4 linked regions of the Homo sapiens genome follow. The protein of the gene in region 2 purifies or fractionates together with the protein of the main gene of each other region. This does not show direct contact. Each region holds a gene or a part of one and is shown on either strand. Other genes may lie near its edges.

Region 1 (4,964 bases), on a different chromosome or scaffold from region 2:
CAACCTCTGCCTCCTGGGTTCAAGTGATTCTCCTGCCTCAGCCTCCTGAGTAGCTGGGATTACAGGCATGTGCCACCACGCCTGGCTAATTTTGTATTTTTAGTAGAGACAAGGTTTCTCCATGTTGGTCAGGCCGGTCTTGAACTCCTGACCTCAGGTGATCCACCTGCCTTGGCCTCCCAAAGTACTGGGATTACAGGCATGAGCCACCATGCCCGACCTTTGTCTTTTTTCTTTTGAGACAGGGTCTTGCTCTGTTATTTAGGCTAGAGTGCAGTGGCAGTCCATGAGAGCCCACTGCAGCTTTGAACTCCTGGGCTCGAGTGATCCTCCTGCATCAACCTTCTGAGTAGCTGGGACTACAGGCATGTGCCACCATGCCTGGCTAATTTTTAAGCTTTTTGTAGCGACAGGGGTCTCACTGTGTTGCCCAGGCTGGACTCAAACTCCTGGACTCAAGCGATCCTCCTGGTTCACCTTCCTAAAGTGCTGAGATTACAGGCGTGACCCAACATGCCTGGCCTCTCACCAAGTACTTTCTACCCTAATCTGCCTCGTGGTGGACAGGGATTAGCAGTACAGGCACTCAGATTGACCTCTGGCAGCCAGATCCCATGTGTGTAAAAGTGGTGGCCTCAGAGTGAAGGTGCTCCAGAGGCAGTCGTGGGCAGTAGTCTGCTAATAGCTATGGCAGCTTGTTCTAGATCCCTGCATCAGATTCCTGAGCCCAAGAATGCGCACACACACACACGTGCCTGTTGACAGTGCAGTCTCTTAAATGTGGGGAGAGAGCAGGAGAGAGGCCTAGTACTTTCTCTTTTAATCCTCCCAAAGTAGTGCTCTACATTCTGTAGGAGAAGGAGCAGTGTCTGGACATAACACGCAGGGCCCCAAGCCTGTTTGCCCCTCTGCCTTGCAGGTTGACACTGATTTCCCTATTGGGTAAAATGGCTGGTGAAAGGGAGCTCTTTGGCATGTGTAGAAATGAGCACGGCATGTGAAGGGCTGTCAGAAACAGTGTGTGGCTTACATTTGAGGCCTTAACCCAATATCTTATGAAATAGCTTATGACACTTAAGAATTTAATACAAAGCTCAGGGATATCCTTTTCATTTCTGGGTTTTTTTTTGGTGTGTATTTCATTATTTCATTTCTGATGTCCAAATCCCCTACCCCTAGGTAAATAAAGGTGACATCCTGGTGGTTGCAACTGGTCAGCCTGAAATGGTTAAAGGGGAGTGGATCAAACCTGGGGCAATAGTCATCGACTGTGGAATCAATTATGTCCCAGGTGAGTGTTGTTGGAGGAGTAAGGTGGCTGCTGGTATTGAGGATGGTATCTAGGTCATCAAAAGAAGCCTGAGAGAGAAGCTTGTCTCATTTTATGCTTGTAGTACTAAGGTTTAGGAGACTGACTAGCCCAAGGGTGCACAGAGTTAGTAGATAGAAGAGTTGCCACTTGCAGGCAGGTCTGCCTGGTGCCAGAGCCTTTGATTTTCATCATGTGCTGTACAGCTTCCAAGATGACTTTGTCCAGGGAGAAAGTGAGAGGGAGGGCAGGAGGGATATATCACTTTATCTTCATGTAGAGATCACCCTTTATTTTAGCAAAGTTGATGGATGGATTTAAAATACAGTATAATTATTGCAAAGTGCTATGAGAGTCCAGAAGAGGGACTCATTCTGCCAAGAGGAGGGCTTTACAAAGAAGATATTTGACCTGGGTTTTTTTCTAGGCTGAGAGGATAAATCTAGCCTTTTAATCATGTCCAAAACTGTACTCGGCATCCTCATCCCCAAGTTACCCCTTACTCCCGTCTTTTGGTTAGTATCACCATTCTTCCTTCCCGCAAGTCTGAAGCCTTTTAGTTTCCCTCCCAAGCATTCCCTATATTGGACCAGTCTCTAAATATTAGGAATTGTTTTCTCTCTCCTCTGTTCTGAGTGTCACCACTGAGTGTTACCTTCTCAGCTGATGGGCTGTGATAACTTCCTTGCAGGTGTCCCTCCCTCCAGCTGCTTCCCACTCAGATCTATCCCCGTGCTCTCGCCTTGCCACGTTCACCTTCTGGCATGGAACTCTGAGCCTCTTCCTTCTTACTTGCCAGACTCCTTAGCCTCACACTAATTTCAGTGACCTCTGCAGCCTGTGATCTCACTTGCGCATGGTGAATACCTGTCTTCAACTTGTAAAGTGGACCACTTTCCCTTCCCTGCGCATGCCTCGTTTGCCCTTTGTAGTTCCCTCACCTGCATTCTTAGTGGAGTGGGCTACTCTTTCAAACAGAAAACTTCACAGAACAATAGGGCAAAACTTGCGTACGTCCTCATAGATCCAAGAAAGGAACAATCTTTAACGGAGCAACTACTGTGTATCCAGCACAATGCCAGGCCTTGGGCTACACAACTGAATAAGGTTCAACTTCACCTTCACCTTCAGCTGCTTCCTCCCCATCTCCTCTCTGTCATGTCTGTTATTCCTTCCAAACCTTGTTTGATTTCCCCTTATCAAGGGATGATCTTTCCTTCTCTCCCTCCCTCCTCTCCCATAGAACATGTGTATTGTATCTTTTGTTGCATGTGTCTCATGTACGGCGTCCTGTGCTCTCCTGCCTAGATAGCTCCTCAAGGGCAGTGGTCACTGTGGCGCCACATCCAGCTTCCTGCCATCTGACCACTGGCACTCATATCTATTGAATTGTCGAAGGGAGTTATAGCTGGAAGTCTTTTTTCTCCCTTCCCATCTCAAGTTTCAGATGTAGACGCTGAGCTGCCAGGAACATTAGTCACTGTCAAGCCTTCACCGTTTTTAACCTCCCTCCCACTCTCCCTACCGTGCTTTTAAGACAGTAGCTCATAATTGATCACTCATTTTCTTGTAGTGTAATTATCTAACAGGCGATAAAGAAATTGCTCTCCTACAACTCCTCACTTTGAATACTTGCGATATGACATTCAAGCTCAGTCTTTTTATTTATTTATTTTTTTAATTTTTTTTTTTTTTCTTGAGACGGAGTCTCGCTCTGTTGCCCAGGCTGGAGTGCTGTGGCGCGATCTCGGCTCACTGCAAGCTCCGCCTTGCGGGTTCATGCCATTCTCCCGCCTCCGCCTCCCGAGTAGCTGGGACTACAGGCGCCCGCCACCACGCCCGGCTAATTTTTTTTGTATTTTTAGTAGAGACGGGGTTTCACCATGTTAGCCAGGATGGTCTCGATCTCCTGACCTCGTGATCCGCCCACCTTTGCCTCCCAAAGTGCTGGGATTACAGGCGTGAGCCACCGCACCCAGCAAGCTCAGTCTTTTTAAAACCTCGCATCTTCTGTATCATATTTCTGCTTTTGGCATTTTTTTTTTGGATTACATGTGAGAAATGGAGAAGAAAAACCTGAGTGGGGATCTTGAGTGTTGCAGATAGGTAGGAAATGTTGACTTAAACATGAAACTTGCCATCCTTTTCACATTGATTCCTTATGTAGACAATAAAATATGAATAAAATCAAAGCAGTATCTTCCCTTCTGGTCAACAGTGTTTTTACTGATCTTGGGCATATAGGCAAATTAATGCTGATACAGCTGGATGTTATTGTGTTCCCCAAAGGATGGCAGAATCACTCAGTTACAGACCAGCAAATGGGCTGCAGGACCTAAAGACTGATATTTGCAAATGTTCACTTTAGAAGCAAACTTTTCTACCACCGAGCTACTTCTTGGTTCATATTTTGATTATTTAAATAGTTTGCATGGTCCACTCAGGGATAACATTGTAAGTCACTTGCCAAATTAAGAATGAATCAAGGTGTGTATACCTTTTACAAAGAAGTAATATTTTTAAAGATTCAAGTGCAGGGCAGAAAGTATTGGCCAGAGAAACACATAAAAGTGCTCTTCCTGCTTGGCTTACTAAAGATAAATTGAGAAGGGCCAGATCAATAGTGTTTTATTTGGAAGGGTTAAAAAGTGGGAACAGATTCCCCACCCTAATGCAATCCAGTCTCAACCTATCCAGTGTAGCTGCTTCTGGACTGGCCTCTATTATTAGGGTCCCCAAATTAAATGTAGAAGAGTCAGGGCTCAGCTGGATCTTTAGTTGATTTTTGTACATGTGATTTCCCAAAGAAAGAGAAATTCTAGGGCTGGGGGTAGATAACCAAAAGGTTTGCTCATTACTGAGGTCATATGCTTAGGCTGAGTAGTGGTCACTTTTTCCACTGACCACATCATCCTATCCACGAAGCACTGCATGTTTAGCAGTGTCTCGTCAACCCTGACAGTATTTGGTTTAGGAGCAAAACTGAACTCACCAGTGCTGCGTTTAGTCATGTAGTCAAAGATATGTGTCTCTTACCTGTGGGAAAACGAAAATGACTAACATTAACACGTAGAAATAGATGCAGCGGGTATTTCAAGCTAACTACAGTGTGAAGACGATTGAAACTTGTACAGAGGGCAAACCTCTATCTATATTTCCTTGGCATTTTGAAATGACTCTAGGGGCTGTAAGAGGAAATGTTCTGCCAGTTTGCTGCTTTATAATCTTCTAGAAACTTGAAACCATCCCAATGAGTTGTGTTGACCAGCTCCTTTTACTCCATATAAAAAATATCTTACGTATCTGTGGTGGAAAGAGAAACTCTTGCGTTTGGAGGCTGCTTTTTCAATTTCAGTAATGTACACATTTTCTCATTTTGCCCTCAGCAAATTTGTGATAGGTAGTGTTAAGCCTTCTTTGCATTTTGGACTTCAGATTAATATGGAGCCCACAGGAGCTGCAGAACTAACTTTTTTTTTTGAGACGGAGTTTCGCTCTTGTTGCCCAGGCTGGAGTGGAATGCTCACTGCAGCCTCCGCCTCCCGGGTTCAAGTGAGTCTCCTGCCTCAGCCTCTGAGCAGCTGGGATTACAGGTGCCCGCTACCAAGCCCAGCTGATTTTTTAATATTTTTAGTAGAGACGGGGTTTCACCATG
Region 2 (4,964 bases):
TTTGCTGACCAAGGAGCTAGAGGACTTTGAGATGAAGAAAGCTGCTGCTCGAGCTGTCACTGGCGTCCTGGCCTCTCACCCCAACAGTACTGATGTTCACATCATCAACCTCTCACTTACCTTTCATGGTCAAGAGCTGCTCAGTGACACCAAACTGGAATTAAACTCAGGCCGTCGTTATGGCCTCATTGGTTTAAATGGAATTGGTGAGGCCTTGGAAGGGGAGGTGGGAGGTATCTCTCCTTAGCTCATCTGTCACTCACAAGCATTTATTTAGCATCAACTGTGTTCAGAGCAAAGCATTTAGAATAGGGATGGGAGACCAGATTATGTCCAGGGGAAAGGAACTAGCAACGCAGAGCAGTATGTGTTATGTACAGGTTGAGTATCCCTTATCTGAAATGCTTGGAACCAGAAGTGTTTCGGATCTTGGAATATTTGCATTATACTTACCGGCTGAGCATCCCTAATCCAAAAACCTGAAATTCTCCAGTGAGCATTTCCTTTAAGCATCATGTGAGCACTTAAAAGGTTTTGGATTTTGGAGCATTTTGGATTTTCAGATTAGGGTGCGTCCACCCTGTACCACATGATTAGTTACAGCAGGTGCTGGAGAAGTTGGTCAGGGGCGTGTGAAGCTGTGGTAAGTGAAAAAAGCTTCAGATAAGGGGTGGGGCAAGAATTGGAGGAAAGTTAGAAAGGAATCCCAAGAATGGGGGCTGGCAAGATTTGAACGAATGAAGGGAAGAAAGGTCCTCAAAAAAAAAAAAATGGATGAGGTCCCAGTTTGACTGGGGTGGAAGAACTAGTGGTGAAGAGGGATAGGGGAGTTCACTGTACCAAGCGTCTGCTGCTCTCCCCTCTCAGGAAAGTCCATGCTGCTCTCTGCTATTGGGAAGCGTGAAGTGCCCATCCCTGAGCACATCGACATCTACCATCTGACTCGAGAGATGCCCCCTAGTGACAAGACACCCTTGCATTGTGTGATGGAAGTCGACACAGAGCGGGCCATGCTGGAGAAAGAGGCAGAGCGGCTGGCTCATGAGGATGGTAGGGCTCCAGACCTGGGCATAGGGGTGGGCGTCCTCCCAGAAAGGCCCCCAGGAGCCTCATGGCCATACACTGTCCACAGCGGAGTGTGAGAAGCTCATGGAGCTCTACGAGCGCCTGGAGGAGCTGGATGCCGACAAGGCAGAGATGAGGGCCTCGCGGATCTTGCATGGACTGGGTTTCACACCTGCCATGCAGCGCAAGAAGCTAAAAGACTTCAGTGGGGGCTGGAGGATGAGGGTTGCCCTTGCCAGGTGAGTCCCTCCCTCCTTCCCTACCCCCATAACTCCCCCATCTCTCCAGTGTTTAGTGTTCACTCCAGTGGAACTGTTTGGAACAGGAGTCAGTGGTAAGTGTCAAATGAGACATGGACATCTGCAGTGTGGAGGGGGTTGTTGTGTATGGGCTAGAGAGAGAGCTTCCTGGCTGAAGTGGTAGAGTGACTCAGTTTTCTATTGGATTCTTAGCACCCAGCACAGAGTTTAGAGATCCTAGGGGTAGTCCTAGGTAAAACGGTGGAGTAGGTCTGTTTCTGTCCTCCCACCAGGATTCCCTTTCCACCCTTTTTGTACTCTAGTCCTGCTAATTCCAGCTGTAAAGATAAAATGTTAGACGGCTATTATGATAGCTGTCGTTCTTATTCTCTTGTGGCCTGGACTCAAAGTGAGTTTCCATAGACCAGCATTCCCCCAATAATCCCCCCAGAGTCACTAAACAGGTAATTCCTTGCCCCATCATTCTCTGTGAAGGGAATTTATAAGACTTGATATACTTCTCTAGAAAGTTGCCTGCATGTGCCTTAGAGTATAAGCACAGTGGTTCCACATGCTAGCAAGGATTAGCTGCCTCCGGTTCACCCAAGGAGCTTTTAAAAACACAGATTTCTGGTTTGGGAACCAGAGCTTTAGAGTCTATCCCTCGCTAGACTCTGGCCACCCCACAAGATAGGTCTATCTTCAGACCTTCAGATAGGTCTAATTTGTTTTAGCAGTTTATTTCCTCTGTATTTTTTTGTCTTCTCCGTAGTCTCCAACTTCAGTGCACAAGGCTCATAAACTCATAAAGACTTCTACAGCCTTGCCTCGAACTGTCCTTATATGCTTCTGAGCCCCGTATTCTACTCTTCAATCTCTTCTCTTCGACTCTTGTTTCTGTCCTGCTTCTCCTTTTCCCTCTGAGGTATAGAGCCTAAAATTGATTTCAAGACTCAAGCCAGGAGCCTACTCAGAATTGCATGTAGCAGGCAAGTTTGTCCCGTCCTGTGTCACATCCATTATAATTCTGAGGTGCTTCTGTCTCCTTTACCGTCCTTCAGAGCCCTCTTTATTCGGCCCTTCATGCTGCTCCTGGATGAGCCTACCAACCACCTGGACCTAGATGCTTGCGTGTGGTTGGAAGAAGAACTAAAAACGTAAGAGGGTGGAATGGGGGATGTGAGCGGGCAGGTCCCAAAGGGGGAATCTAGAAAATGGATGCCCAGAAACTGCACTGATGTTAGAGCGGTGAGAAAGGAACTGAAGGAAGGACAGAGTTCACTTTCTTGGACAAGCAGTGAGCACCTTTAGGGCTGTTGAAGGCTGGCCTTTTATTTTGATTGTTTTTCTTTAGTTTGAAATTTATGAGCTTTTTTTTTTAAAAAAAATCCTTGTTGGTTTTGTCCATATTTCAAATTCAAGATCTTAATTAAAGATATATTTTTTTTCTTAATTGTATAAAGCTAAAAAGAGGTCTTCCATCTAAGATCATGATGCAGTGACAAAGGAAAATATAGCCAATATGGTCATGGTCCTACAGCTAAAGAACTGAATAAGCTGGAATATTGTACCAATTTTAAAAGAAGGCTTTTAGTGGTACGATGACTTAGTACCTTCTTTCAAAAAGTAAAGCATTTTGTTTTTTATTGTGTCTGTACCAGTTCTTCCCACCCACAGTTTTGGATACATTCGTGGGTGTATTTGTGTACATACACACTTCTGGTTACTATCACTGTTACTACCGTCTCCATCCCATTCTGTTGAAAATTAGAACAGAAGATTGAGGAAACTCAGGCTGTCTCGCCACACTGAAAGGCGTCCAAATACCCTTACAGTTAGATTGTCGAGTCGTGGCTTAGGTGCTTGCTAACAGCCAGGAATTGGACAACACATCTAAAAGGTGCTTAGGGATGAGGATGGGCCTGACTTTCAGTTCACCTGTTGTCAGCTAGCTCCCATGGTTGAGCTCTTCACTAATTGGTTCTTTGGCTTTACAGTTTTAAGCGCATCTTGGTCCTCGTCTCCCATTCCCAGGATTTTCTGAATGGTGTCTGTACCAATATCATTCACATGCACAACAAGAAACTGAAGTATTATACGGTGAGTGGGCCTCGGCTTCTTCTGGTAATCTCTGTGCATACCAATTCTCTGAAATTCTCTTTAAAAAAAAAAAAAAAGGCTGGTGTGGTGGCTCATGCCTGTAATCCCAGCACTTTGGGAGGCCGAGGTGGGTGGGTCACTTGAGGTCAGGAGTTTGAGACCAGCCTGGCCAATATGGTGAAACCCTGTCTCTACTAAAAATACAAAAAAATTAGCCAGGCGTGGTGGCAGGTGCCTGTAGTCCCAGCTACTTGGGAAGCTGAGGCAGGAGAATCACTTGAACCCTGGAGGCGGAGGTTGCAGTGAGCTGAGATCACACCACTGCACTCCAGCCTGGGTGACAGAGCAAGACTCCATCTCAAAAAAAAAAAAAAAGCAGACCTATCTATTAGCTCCTTTCTACCTATTGCTATAAAAAGATATGGACAAGGAGTCCTACCACCTGTTTTATTTTAATCCCAAAGTCATTGCTTTCAGGCCATAGGCCATGGATTGGCAGCCTGTGCACACAAGGTGTATGTTTGCCTTGTGGCAAAGAAGTTGACTTTTCACGGTGACCAGGCAGGCCCTGCTCTCATCTGCCTTGCCTCTTTTTTTCTGGAAACAGAATCTCATTCCGTCACCCAGGCTGGCATGATCTCAGCTCACTGCAACCTCTACTTCCTGAATTCAAGCGATTCTTGTACCTCAGCCTTCTGAGTAGCTGGGACTACAGGCATGCACTGCCATGTCTGGCTAGTTTTTGTATTTTTAGTAGAGACGGGATTTTGCCATGTTGGCCAGGCTGGTCTTGAACTCTTGACTTCAGGTGATCTGCCCTCCTCAGCCTCCCAAAGTGCTGGGATAACAGGCATGAGCCACCACACGAGGCCTCCCTCTGCCTTCTTGAATGCCTTCTTAATTCTGCTTCACTGGAGTCTACACATTTACCCCACCTCCCATGACCACAGGAGAATGGGGGTCAGGATCTCAATAGCCCACTGTTGTGCCTTGCCTTTTCATTTTATATTTCAAAAAGCATGTAAGAAACTAACGATTGATGTCCTCTTCATTCATAGTCATAGGAGTATTAGTTTATAATATAGCCTTCCAGAAACTTCATGTATACTTGCACACATTTGTAGAAAATGTCATGTATACGTAATCTTTTTCTTTTTATACAATTGCAGCTTTTTTTTTTTTTTTTTTTTGAGCTGGAGTCTTGCTCCGTCGCCAGGCTGGAGTGCAGTGGCGCGATCTGGGCTCACTGCAACCTCCACCTCCCAGGTTCAAGGGACTCTCCTGCCTCGGCTTCCTGAGTAGCTGGGACTACAGGCGCATGCCACCACACCCAGCTAATTTTTGTATTTTTAGTAGAGATGGGGTTCACCATATTGGCCAGGATGGTCTCCCTCTCTTGACCTCATGATCCGCCTGCCTCGGCCTCCCAAAGTGCTGGGATTACAGGCGTGAGCCACCGCACCCGGCCTCTTTTTTCTCGAGATGGGGTCTGTCTCTGTCACCCAGGCTGGAGTCCAGTGGCGTGATATTGGCTCACTGCAACTTCTGCCTCCCAGGTTC
Region 3 (4,964 bases), on a different chromosome or scaffold from region 2:
GTTGGTTGTCATTTGTTATCCTTTTGATATATTGCTAGATTTGATTTGTAATGTTTCATTGTTGTTTTGTGTCTATGTTCATGAGTGATATGAGTATGTAGTTTTCTTGTAATGTCTTTTATCTGGTTTTCATATCAGAGTAATGTTGGCCTCCTAAGACGAGTTGAGAAGTGTTTCCTCCTCTGTTTTCTGAAAGAATGTGCAGGAATTGGATTATTTCAAAGAATTAGCTTTTGGTTTTATTGATATTCTTTTCTAATATAAGCATTTAAAAGTGTTAATTTCTAATTACTAGTTAGACATGTTTTTATTATTTAGCTTTACAAGCTTCAGGCTTTTCCTTTAAAGGTGTTGAGCATGTTTATAAATATTCTAAGGACCTCATATGCTAATTTTAACATCTTCGTCATTTCCTACTGATTTGTCTCCTTAGTAGCATTCAGATTCGTCTGATTCTTTATTTTGTCACCCTAGACTCTGTCCCCAGACAGATTATGCTTTTGATTGTTTGTTTGGCTAGCAAGTATTTTTCATTTCTTCTATGCTCATTTATCTCTCATGTTGAAAAGTGAGGGAAAATAGATTCTGTCATTAACAAAACAGATTTAATCCTAATTTGAGCAATAAAATAATTAAAATAGGCTGTTCCCTTAGAAAATATATATTTTTTAATTTTTTGGTATATAATTTTATAGTGATGGTACTTGCTGGGATTGATTGATTTGTTACAAAAACTGTTTCGGAATTCCAACAATATACATTAATAGTCTTAGGATAATTCTAGGATGTTATCTTTTGCAAACAAATGGCAGCCACTTAGGAACTCATGGAGGCTGACAGGGGCAGCATGGCACCACAGCAGTTTCTAATTTAAGAGCAGGTGCCGATAAGCAGTCTGAAAGGAGCTTTTGGTACAATAAAGTGTATGAGTAAGTCACACTGTTCTGTATATATGAGACACACATGAGGAATTTTCTGGAGCTATTAATACAGTTCTTGAATGTTCTGAATTTTTTAGAGATCTTTCTCATGAAAAAACTTTTTCAGATTGATAGGTTATATGATTGGAAAAAGAGTCCTGACTCTGATGTGGCTGCTACTTTAAAGAAGCAGAAAAAGAATACAAAAGATGAATTTGAGGAGCGAGCAAAGGCTATTATTGTAGAATTTGCACAGCAGGTAAGAAGGCCTTCCTTCTTTCTGAAGAGCCTATCTCAGAATATGTATTATATTATCTTTATAATGAAGTCAGCATTTTCATTAATACTGGTTCTTTTCCTCTGTTGACAGCAATTACTTTTTTTAAATTCTTCTTCCCTTTTCTCCTTTTTCTTTGCAGTCTGAATACTTTAATTTAGAAAACTGAGTTGACTTAGAACTACTTTGCTATAATACAGTTAATGCTTATAGGATATACATGATCATTTTTAGTGTTTATGAGGAGTTTCAAAATGATGAGCCATTTGCTCATCCGGCTTCTAGTGAGGCACACCTATTCCAGATACGTTTTCTTTACAGCCTGGCATTTTGGATGATTTTTGCTCCTAGGGTTTGAATGCTGCTTTGTTTTATGAGAATAAAGATCCCCGCACTTTTGTGTCTTTGGTACCTACCTCTGCACATACTGGTGATGGCATGGGAAGTCTGATCTACCTTCTTGTAGAGTTAACTCAGACCATGTTGAGCAAGAGACTTGCACACTGTGAAGAGCTGAGAGCACAGGTGATGGAGGTAATGATCAACTTTTCAGTTTATTGTTTTTTTTTTTTTTAAAAATAGCAAGTTCCTTGAGTGGAGGATATTTACTACTTTTAGATTTAATGAACATGGTGCATTGTATGTATGTCTTTCTCTTTGCATTAATGCCTTTTAGGTTAAAGCTCTCCCGGGGATGGGCACCACTATAGATGTCATCTTGATCAATGGGCGTTTGAAGGAAGGAGATACAATCATTGTTCCTGGAGTAGAAGGGCCCATTGTAACTCAGATTCGAGGCCTCCTGTTACCTCCTCCTATGAAGGAATTACGAGTGAAGGTATGCTGAGGTGGGAAGCATTGACACGTGGGGACTTGTACAGTGTTTAGAAGTTCTGCTGAGATGGTTTCCTCACTTTGAAAGCTGTTTGACTTAATACAGAACACATACATCCCTCGCTCTCCCTTTTATTTTAGTTGTCATCATACAGGAAGGCCTGTCTGTCAGAGTAGAGATGTGTGAAAGTACCTGCTTACCAGACTGGGCCTTTGCCAGATTCTAAACTACACTGTTATGGTTCTACACTGCTAAATACGGTTGACTCTTGAACAACATGAGGGCTAGGGGCACTGACTCCCTGGCCAGTTGAAAATCCACATATATTTTTTGACTCCCCAAAAACTTAACTCCTAATAGCCTACCATTGACCAGAAGCCTTACCAATCACATACACAGTCGACTAACATGTTTTGTATGTTTTATATATTACATACTGCATTCTTACAGTAAAACAAGCTAGAGAAAAGAAAACGTGATTAAGAAAATCATAAGGAAAATAGATTTACTATTTGTTAAGTGGAAGTGGATCATCATAATGGTCCTCATTCTCATCTTCATGTTGAGTAAGCTGAGAGGGAAGAAGGAGAGGGGTAGGCCTTGCTGTGTTTGGTGGCAGAGGCAGAAGAAAATCTGAGTATAAGTGGACATATGCAGTTCAAGCCCATTTTGTTCAAGGGTCAGCTGTAGTTTTTTAACATTTTTAATTGTGAAATAAAACATTGCTCCTGAAAAGTACACACAACATAGAAGAAAAGTTTAACACATTTTTGGGAAGCAACCAGATGGAGAATCAGAACGCTGCTGGCACCCAGAAGCTTCCTGTGTGCTTCTTCCTGATCAACTCCCCTGCCTTCCCCTCCTACCCCCTGACCTTTCATAGAGTTAACCATGGTTGCATTTTATGACAGTAACAAATATCCTTGCTTTGCTTTGTTTTTGTGTCTAAGAGTACTTCCCTTAGAAGTGTCTGTAGACTTTATGTAGAAATGGAGTTATTCTCAGTGTGTACTTTTATAGCTGGCTCTTTTTTTTTTTTTTTTTTTGGTGATAGGCTCTCACTGTCACCCAGGCTGGAGTGCAGTGGTGCAGTCACAGTTCACTGCAGCCTCAACCTCCCCGGGGTTCAGGTGATCCTCCCACCTCAGCCTCCTGAATAGTTGGGACTATAGGTACGCACCACCACACCTGGCTAATTTGTTTACAGATGGGACTTTGTCATGTTGCCCAGGCTGGTCTTGACCTCCTGGGCTCAAGCAATCCACCCACCTTGATCTCCCCAAAGTGCTGGGATTATAGGCATGAGCCACCATGCCTGGCCTATATCTGGCTTCCTTTAGTGAAAAAAAAAAAGTATATAATTTTAAGATTTCTATTCCATTGTGTGACTATATCACAACATATCTATCTGTTCTGTTGATGGGAAATGTAGGTGATCTCCAGTTTTTTATGTTTATTTTATTTTATTTTATTTTGAGATGGAGTCTCAGTCTGTCATCCAGGCTGGGATTACAGGTGCACGCCACCACACCCGGCTAATTTTTGTATTTTTAGTAGAGGTGGGGTTTTGCCGTGTTGGCCAGGCTAGTCTCGAACTCCTGACCTCAGCCTCCCTAAGTGAGCCACCGCACCCGGCCCAGTTTTTGATTTTTGTTGTTACTAATAATGCTGCTGCTGTGAACATCTCTTGATGTGTTTGTGCCAGTTTCCCAGGGTATGTATACCTAGGAGTGAAGGCCACACTTGTCTACAGTGGGTGTAACAAATTATATTCTCAACTGCAGTATTTTAGTTTCATTGTTTTACAGCTTCATCAGTTCTTGGATGTTAGGTTTTAAATTTTTTTTGCCATTCTGCTAAGTGTGTAGCTCATTGCCGTTTCAGTGTGCATTTGCCTAATTGTTAACCTGGTTGGTCATTTAAAAATGTTTATTGGCCATTTATTTCCTCCTTCGTGAGATGTACATTTTTCTTCTGCATTATCTTTCTTACAGATTTATATGCGCTTATATATTCAGGATACCGGTTTGTTAGTTGGTGTGTTTTGCAATATCTTCTACTCTTGTGACTTTTTTTTTCCTGTGGTATTTTGAGAAATGGAAATATTTAATTTTAATGTTAAATTTATCAGTCTTGTGATTATTGCTTTTTGTGCCTCGTTTAAGAAACCTCTCTCTAATATCATGATGAGATTCTCTTATATCATCTTCTACTGCTAACCACTTTTAAAGTACATTTGGTAACAAATGTTTTTATCTCTGTAGAACCAGTATGAAAAGCATAAAGAAGTAGAAGCAGCTCAGGGGGTAAAGATTCTTGGAAAAGACCTGGAGAAAACATTGGCTGGTTTACCCCTCCTTGTGGCTTATAAAGAAGATGAAATCCCTGTTCTTAAAGTAAGTTCATTTAAAAATTTTTTTCCTTAAAAGCTATTTGAGTTCTGGCATGTGTCAGCATTGCACATGCTAGGGATGGTGACCAAAACTGGCTTTGTCTTTGTGAAGCCTGCCATTTCTTGGCCTCTTAGCAAACTTGATGCTTTTGAATTACTTCAGTTTGTACAATCATAGAAATTGGTATAATTTTTATATGTACTAGAATTATAAAAATAATGCATTTTATTCAAATAAAAAAATGAGTCAAAAGCTAGAAGTCGGCTGGGCATGGTGAATGCACACCTGTAGTCCCAGCTACTTGGGAGGCTGAGGCAGGAGAATCACTTGAACCTGGGAGGCAGAGGCTGCAGTGAGCCAAGATCGTGCCACTGCACTCCAACCTGGGTGACAGCAGGACCCTGTCTAAAAAAAAAAAAGCTAGAAATTGTATATTCTTTTTGGCCCATGTCCATTGTAGTTTCATAAAAGTGGACTTTGAGCCATAGTTTGTTCATTTGCCAAAGAGAAAATACAACTGTTCCCAGCACATGGCTCTT
Region 4 (4,964 bases), on a different chromosome or scaffold from region 2:
ATATAAATAATATATAATTTATATATATAGATATAAATTATATATATATAATATATATATATAGCAGTGAAACAGAACAAATGTGGTATCAGAGCCACAATCTCAGAAGCATTAAGGACTAGCCTTATACAGTGAATTAGAATTCAAAACCCCGAATGGACAGGCTGAGGATCAAACAGTAGTCCTAAGTATCAGTAGTAAAGGAAGTGGGAAAGCTAGTTTGGGGCAGTGTCCCTTAAAGCATATAATAGGGAAGATATTAAAATTCAGGCAACTGAGACCACAGCTAAATTCTGTAGCATATAACTCCATGTTGGTATATATGCTATATATATATAGCAGTGAAACAGAACAAATATATATATATATATATAAAAATATATATATATATATTTATATATATATATATATATATAAATATATATATATATATATATTTCTCCCTGTACCCAGGTAAATGCCTGCCATGTAACAGTGCCAAATATTTTGTTTTCTGATTAGCTAGATAAATTGCTGATTTAATTTCAGTTTACTGGGTTTTGTTCAAAATGCTCATAAATTTGCTTTATTTCTTGTGGATTATTGCACCTTTATTTGCTCCTCCATCTAAATATTCAGTGCTTTTTTCCCCTTATTTTTGGGGCTGCCAATTCCCATAGCCTACTAGGATCCTGGAGATGGAAAATACCTTGAGTATTTGTGGTAGAGCTTTAGATCACCTTTATTTGACCTGCTTATTTCACTAGAGCTGAATAGCATTTTTAACTATACCCTCCCCCAACCCCGAAAAGGCAGCCTTAGCTCAGCCTATGAAAACCGTGTGTGTAATCACATTTCTAACATTTGACTTACACCTCAGTTCTGATTCTTCTCCATCTCCTTTGCTGGCACTAGTCTTCTAAATATTGGCATTGCCTAGGTCCCAGTCTTGATCATGCTTTTCCTTTTCCCCTATTTTATCTTCCTAAGTGATCTCACCCATTCCTGTGGCTTTAAATACCAAATGTGTGCTGCTGGCTTCCAAATACATATGTCCAGGCTTGACCTATCTTTAAGCTCCAAATCTGTATACCCAATCCCCTACTTAACATTTTTACCTGAATGTCTTACAGATAAAATAAATAAACCATTTTACTAAGTCCAAAATGAAACTTTTGATTTTTGCCCCTCCTCTTATCACCACTCACAACCAGTTCTATTCCTAATCTTCCCTATGTTGGTATGTTGCGCTACACAGTATATAGTACAATGCCCTCTACATCTCTCAATGGGTGTTGGCCCCATATAGTACTGTATTGAGTATATCAAATATTGTAAAATCACCCACCCACCTGCTCAAGCCACAGAGCCATCCTGGGTTCTGACCCATTTTTTATCCCCCATCTCCAATTCTTGAACAAGTGTAATGTTTTTTTTGTTTGTTGTTTGTTTTTTGTTTTTTGTTTTTTTGTGAGATGGAGTCTTGCTCTGTTGCCCGGGGTGGAGTGCAGTGGCATGATCTCAGCTCACTGCAACCTCTGCCTCCTGGGTTCAAGTGATTCTCCTGCCTCAGCCTCCTGAGTAGCTGGGACTACAAGGCATGAACCATCATGCCCAGCTATTTTTGTACTTTTAATAGTGATGGGGTTTTGCCATGTTGGCCAGGCTGGTCTTGAACACCTGACCTCAGGAGATCCACCCACCTCAGCCTCCCAAAGTGCTGGGATTACAGGCGTGAGCCACCACATCCAGCCCTGAACAAGTGTAGTGGTTTTTAGCTCCAAAATAAGTCTTGAATCTGCCTACTTATCTCCAGTTCCACTCTTAACACCCAAGTCTAAGCTACCATTATCTCTTGTCCAAACCAAGGCAACAAACTCCTCCCTGCTACCAGTCTTGCCAGTCTTGCATTTTGAAGAACTAATCTCTACATAGCAGTGAAGGTGGACTTTATAAATAAGAAACCTATAGCGTCAATGCCCTCTACACCTCTCAGTGGGTGTTGGCTCCATTATACTTGGAACACAATGAAAAGTCATCACTGTGACCGACAAGGCCCTACTTGAAGTGCCCCCTCTGTACTTATCCAAATTCATTTTAAGCCCTTTCCGTCCTACCGCTCCAGGCTCACAATGTGCCCCACATGTTATATGTTGGCCATCTGACAGTTCCTAAAACATAATGAGAACTTTCCTGTCCTAAGGCCTTGGAAATTACTTTCTCCTGGGCCTGAAATACTCTTCCCTCTGTTGCTTTTTTGTTTTGTTTTATTTCTATTTTGACAAGTTGCAAACATATAACAAACATCTGTGTTCCTACCACCAAAAATTAATAGTTACTAACTTTTTGACATTTTTCCTTGGATTTGAACATTAACGAAAGAACAATATAAAGGTAAATTCTCCTTGTTCTGCCTGTGTTCCATCCCCCTTTCTCCTTACTCAGAATGAGTAAGGGATATTGCTGGTTCCTTACACTACATACATTTCTTCCTTCCTTCTGTTTAGCAAAACCTTGACTTTGTTAAGGCATTCACACACTGCCCACTCCCACCTCCACCCTCTGCCCCAACACCCTCATGTGTTCAGCAGAGGCCATTTGCAGCACGACTGTGGCCCAGGAGATAAGAGGGCAAGTTTCCTGGAGGCTGTGTTTCATTTTGACCCAGGCTATCCAGCAAGGAGGCTGTAGCACTTCTAGAGGCTCCTATCCTCTCTCTCCTGCCCTCAAAGATTTGCCTTTAGAGAACTGGAATGGGACCAAAGAGTCAGGCTCTTTGAATTTCTGATCCACTGCCAAGTCATGAACCAAATGATGTTCTTGTTTGTTCAGTCTTCATCATGTGTCATCTGCTTATCTCAACATCACTGTCTGATCTAAACCAAAAACATCAACATCATAAATAGAAGGAAACTGGACTTCCTACATGTCTCCATGCCTATCCTCCCAAAAAAGAAAGAAAAATGATTTCTCCTTCTATATCAAATCATTTTTTGGTTAGTGTATTATTTTATCATAATTGTGTGTTCGTTTAAACCCAGTGCTATGAAAGACTTCTACAAGGTTAAATCTCCGCTCAAATACAAAATGTTTAAAATCTCAACTGAGAACTGACCTCCCTGTCTCTTCTCTCTGCTTGCAGGCTGCGGCATGTTTACCTTCCTGTCATCTGTCACTGCTGCTGTCAGTGGCCTCCTGGTGGGTTATGAACTTGGGATCATCTCTGGGGCTCTTCTTCAGATCAAAACCTTATTAGCCCTGAGCTGCCATGAGCAGGAAATGGTTGTGAGCTCCCTCGTCATTGGAGCCCTCCTTGCCTCACTCACCGGAGGGGTCCTGATAGACAGATATGGAAGAAGGACAGCAATCATCTTGTCATCCTGCCTGCTTGGACTCGGAAGCTTAGTCTTGATCCTCAGTTTATCCTACACGGTTCTTATAGTGGGACGCATTGCCATAGGGGTCTCCATCTCCCTCTCTTCCATTGCCACTTGTGTTTACATCGCAGAGATTGCTCCTCAACACAGAAGAGGCCTTCTTGTGTCACTGAATGAGCTGATGATTGTCATCGGCATTCTTTCTGCCTATATTTCAAATTACGCATTTGCCAATGTTTTCCATGGCTGGAAGTACATGTTTGGTCTTGTGATTCCCTTGGGAGTTTTGCAAGCAATTGCAATGTATTTTCTTCCTCCAAGCCCTCGGTTTCTGGTGATGAAAGGACAAGAGGGAGCTGCTAGCAAGGTTCTTGGAAGGTTAAGAGCACTCTCAGATACAACTGAGGAACTCACTGTGATCAAATCCTCCCTGAAAGATGAATATCAGTACAGTTTTTGGGATCTGTTTCGTTCAAAAGACAACATGCGGACCCGAATAATGATAGGACTAACACTAGTATTTTTTGTACAAATCACTGGCCAACCAAACATATTGTTCTATGCATCAACTGTTTTGAAGTCAGTTGGATTTCAAAGCAATGAGGCAGCTAGCCTCGCCTCCACTGGGGTTGGAGTCGTCAAGGTCATTAGCACCATCCCTGCCACTCTTCTTGTAGACCATGTCGGCAGCAAAACATTCCTCTGCATTGGCTCCTCTGTGATGGCAGCTTCGTTGGTGACCATGGGCATCGTAAATCTCAACATCCACATGAACTTCACCCATATCTGCAGAAGCCACAATTCTATCAACCAGTCCTTGGATGAGTCTGTGATTTATGGACCAGGAAACCTGTCAACCAACAACAATACTCTCAGAGACCACTTCAAAGGGATTTCTTCCCATAGCAGAAGCTCACTCATGCCCCTGAGAAATGATGTGGATAAGAGAGGGGAGACGACCTCAGCATCCTTGCTAAATGCTGGATTAAGCCACACTGAATACCAGATAGTCACAGACCCTGGGGACGTCCCAGCTTTTTTGAAATGGCTGTCCTTAGCCAGCTTGCTTGTTTATGTTGCTGCTTTTTCAATTGGTCTAGGACCAAGTAAGTACTTTATTCTTTAATGTATTGCTTTTGACCAGTCAGAGCATCCTACTGCTATAGTACCTCATGAACATAAGTGCTAGAAGGAAGACAAGGATAACATTGGTCATCTGATGTTCCTTCTAATGCAGAAAGTATGCTTGGCTTATATCTGCTTCTGAAAAGTACAGGGCTAGTATTCAACTGAAAGATAAGTTTCCCATTATCTGTCACATGAGGATACTTTAATTCCCATTAATTGAGGATGAACCAGACCTGGAAAGATATTTATTGCCCAAGGGAATTACATTGCTTTATGAAAGCAAAATTTGCTTTCATAAAATGGGTAACATTTTCCTCTATATCATCTCTGAGTTTCTTCCTATGTAGAAGGAAAAAAATCAAGGGTTTAGATTTTCTTAAAGACACAATAGTGGATGCATTCCAGTGATAGTAAAGAAGGAAGACATTATGAGCTGAGAAGGAGGATGTATTATTATTACTATTTTGAGTACATCTTATT

What was found. Proteins that work in one complex are often made in the same cells at the same time.
Region 1: the proteins of ABCF2 (region 2) and MTHFD1 fractionate together in Homo sapiens (co-fractionation; one large-scale study listed by BioGRID). This does not show direct contact.
Region 3: the proteins of ABCF2 (region 2) and EIF5B fractionate together in Homo sapiens (co-fractionation; one large-scale study listed by BioGRID). This does not show direct contact.
Region 4: the proteins of ABCF2 (region 2) and SLC2A12 purify together in Homo sapiens (affinity purification with mass spectrometry, with the first as the bait; one large-scale study listed by BioGRID). This does not show direct contact.

Annotation. Positions count from the first base shown.
Region 1 is NC_000014.9:64,418,635-64,423,598, forward strand, and holds part of MTHFD1 (C-1-tetrahydrofolate synthase, cytoplasmic), read left to right. Parts: intron 1-1,179; coding exon 1,180-1,291; intron 1,292-4,964. UniProt on the Homo sapiens protein: Trifunctional enzyme that catalyzes the interconversion of three forms of one-carbon-substituted tetrahydrofolate: (6R)-5,10-methylene-5,6,7,8-tetrahydrofolate, 5,10-methenyltetrahydrofolate and (6S)-10-formyltetrahydrofolate.
Region 2 is NC_000007.14:151,220,018-151,224,981, reverse strand, and holds part of ABCF2 (ATP-binding cassette sub-family F member 2), read left to right. Parts: coding exon 1-206; intron 207-867; coding exon 868-1,050; intron 1,051-1,132; coding exon 1,133-1,304; intron 1,305-2,365; coding exon 2,366-2,461; intron 2,462-3,301; coding exon 3,302-3,404; intron 3,405-4,964. Other genes in the region: ABCF2-H2BK1 (ABCF2-H2B protein), read left to right, coding at 1-206, 868-1,050, 1,133-1,304, 2,366-2,461, 3,302-3,404.
Region 3 is NC_000002.12:99,388,671-99,393,634, forward strand, and holds part of EIF5B (eukaryotic translation initiation factor 5B), read left to right. Parts: intron 1-1,047; coding exon 1,048-1,179; intron 1,180-1,548; coding exon 1,549-1,731; intron 1,732-1,873; coding exon 1,874-2,035; intron 2,036-4,296; coding exon 4,297-4,428; intron 4,429-4,964. UniProt on the Homo sapiens protein: Plays a role in translation initiation.
Region 4 is NC_000006.12:134,027,879-134,032,842, reverse strand, and holds part of SLC2A12 (solute carrier family 2, facilitated glucose transporter member 12), read left to right. Parts: intron 1-3,121; coding exon 3,122-4,462; intron 4,463-4,964. UniProt on the Homo sapiens protein: Insulin-independent facilitative glucose transporter.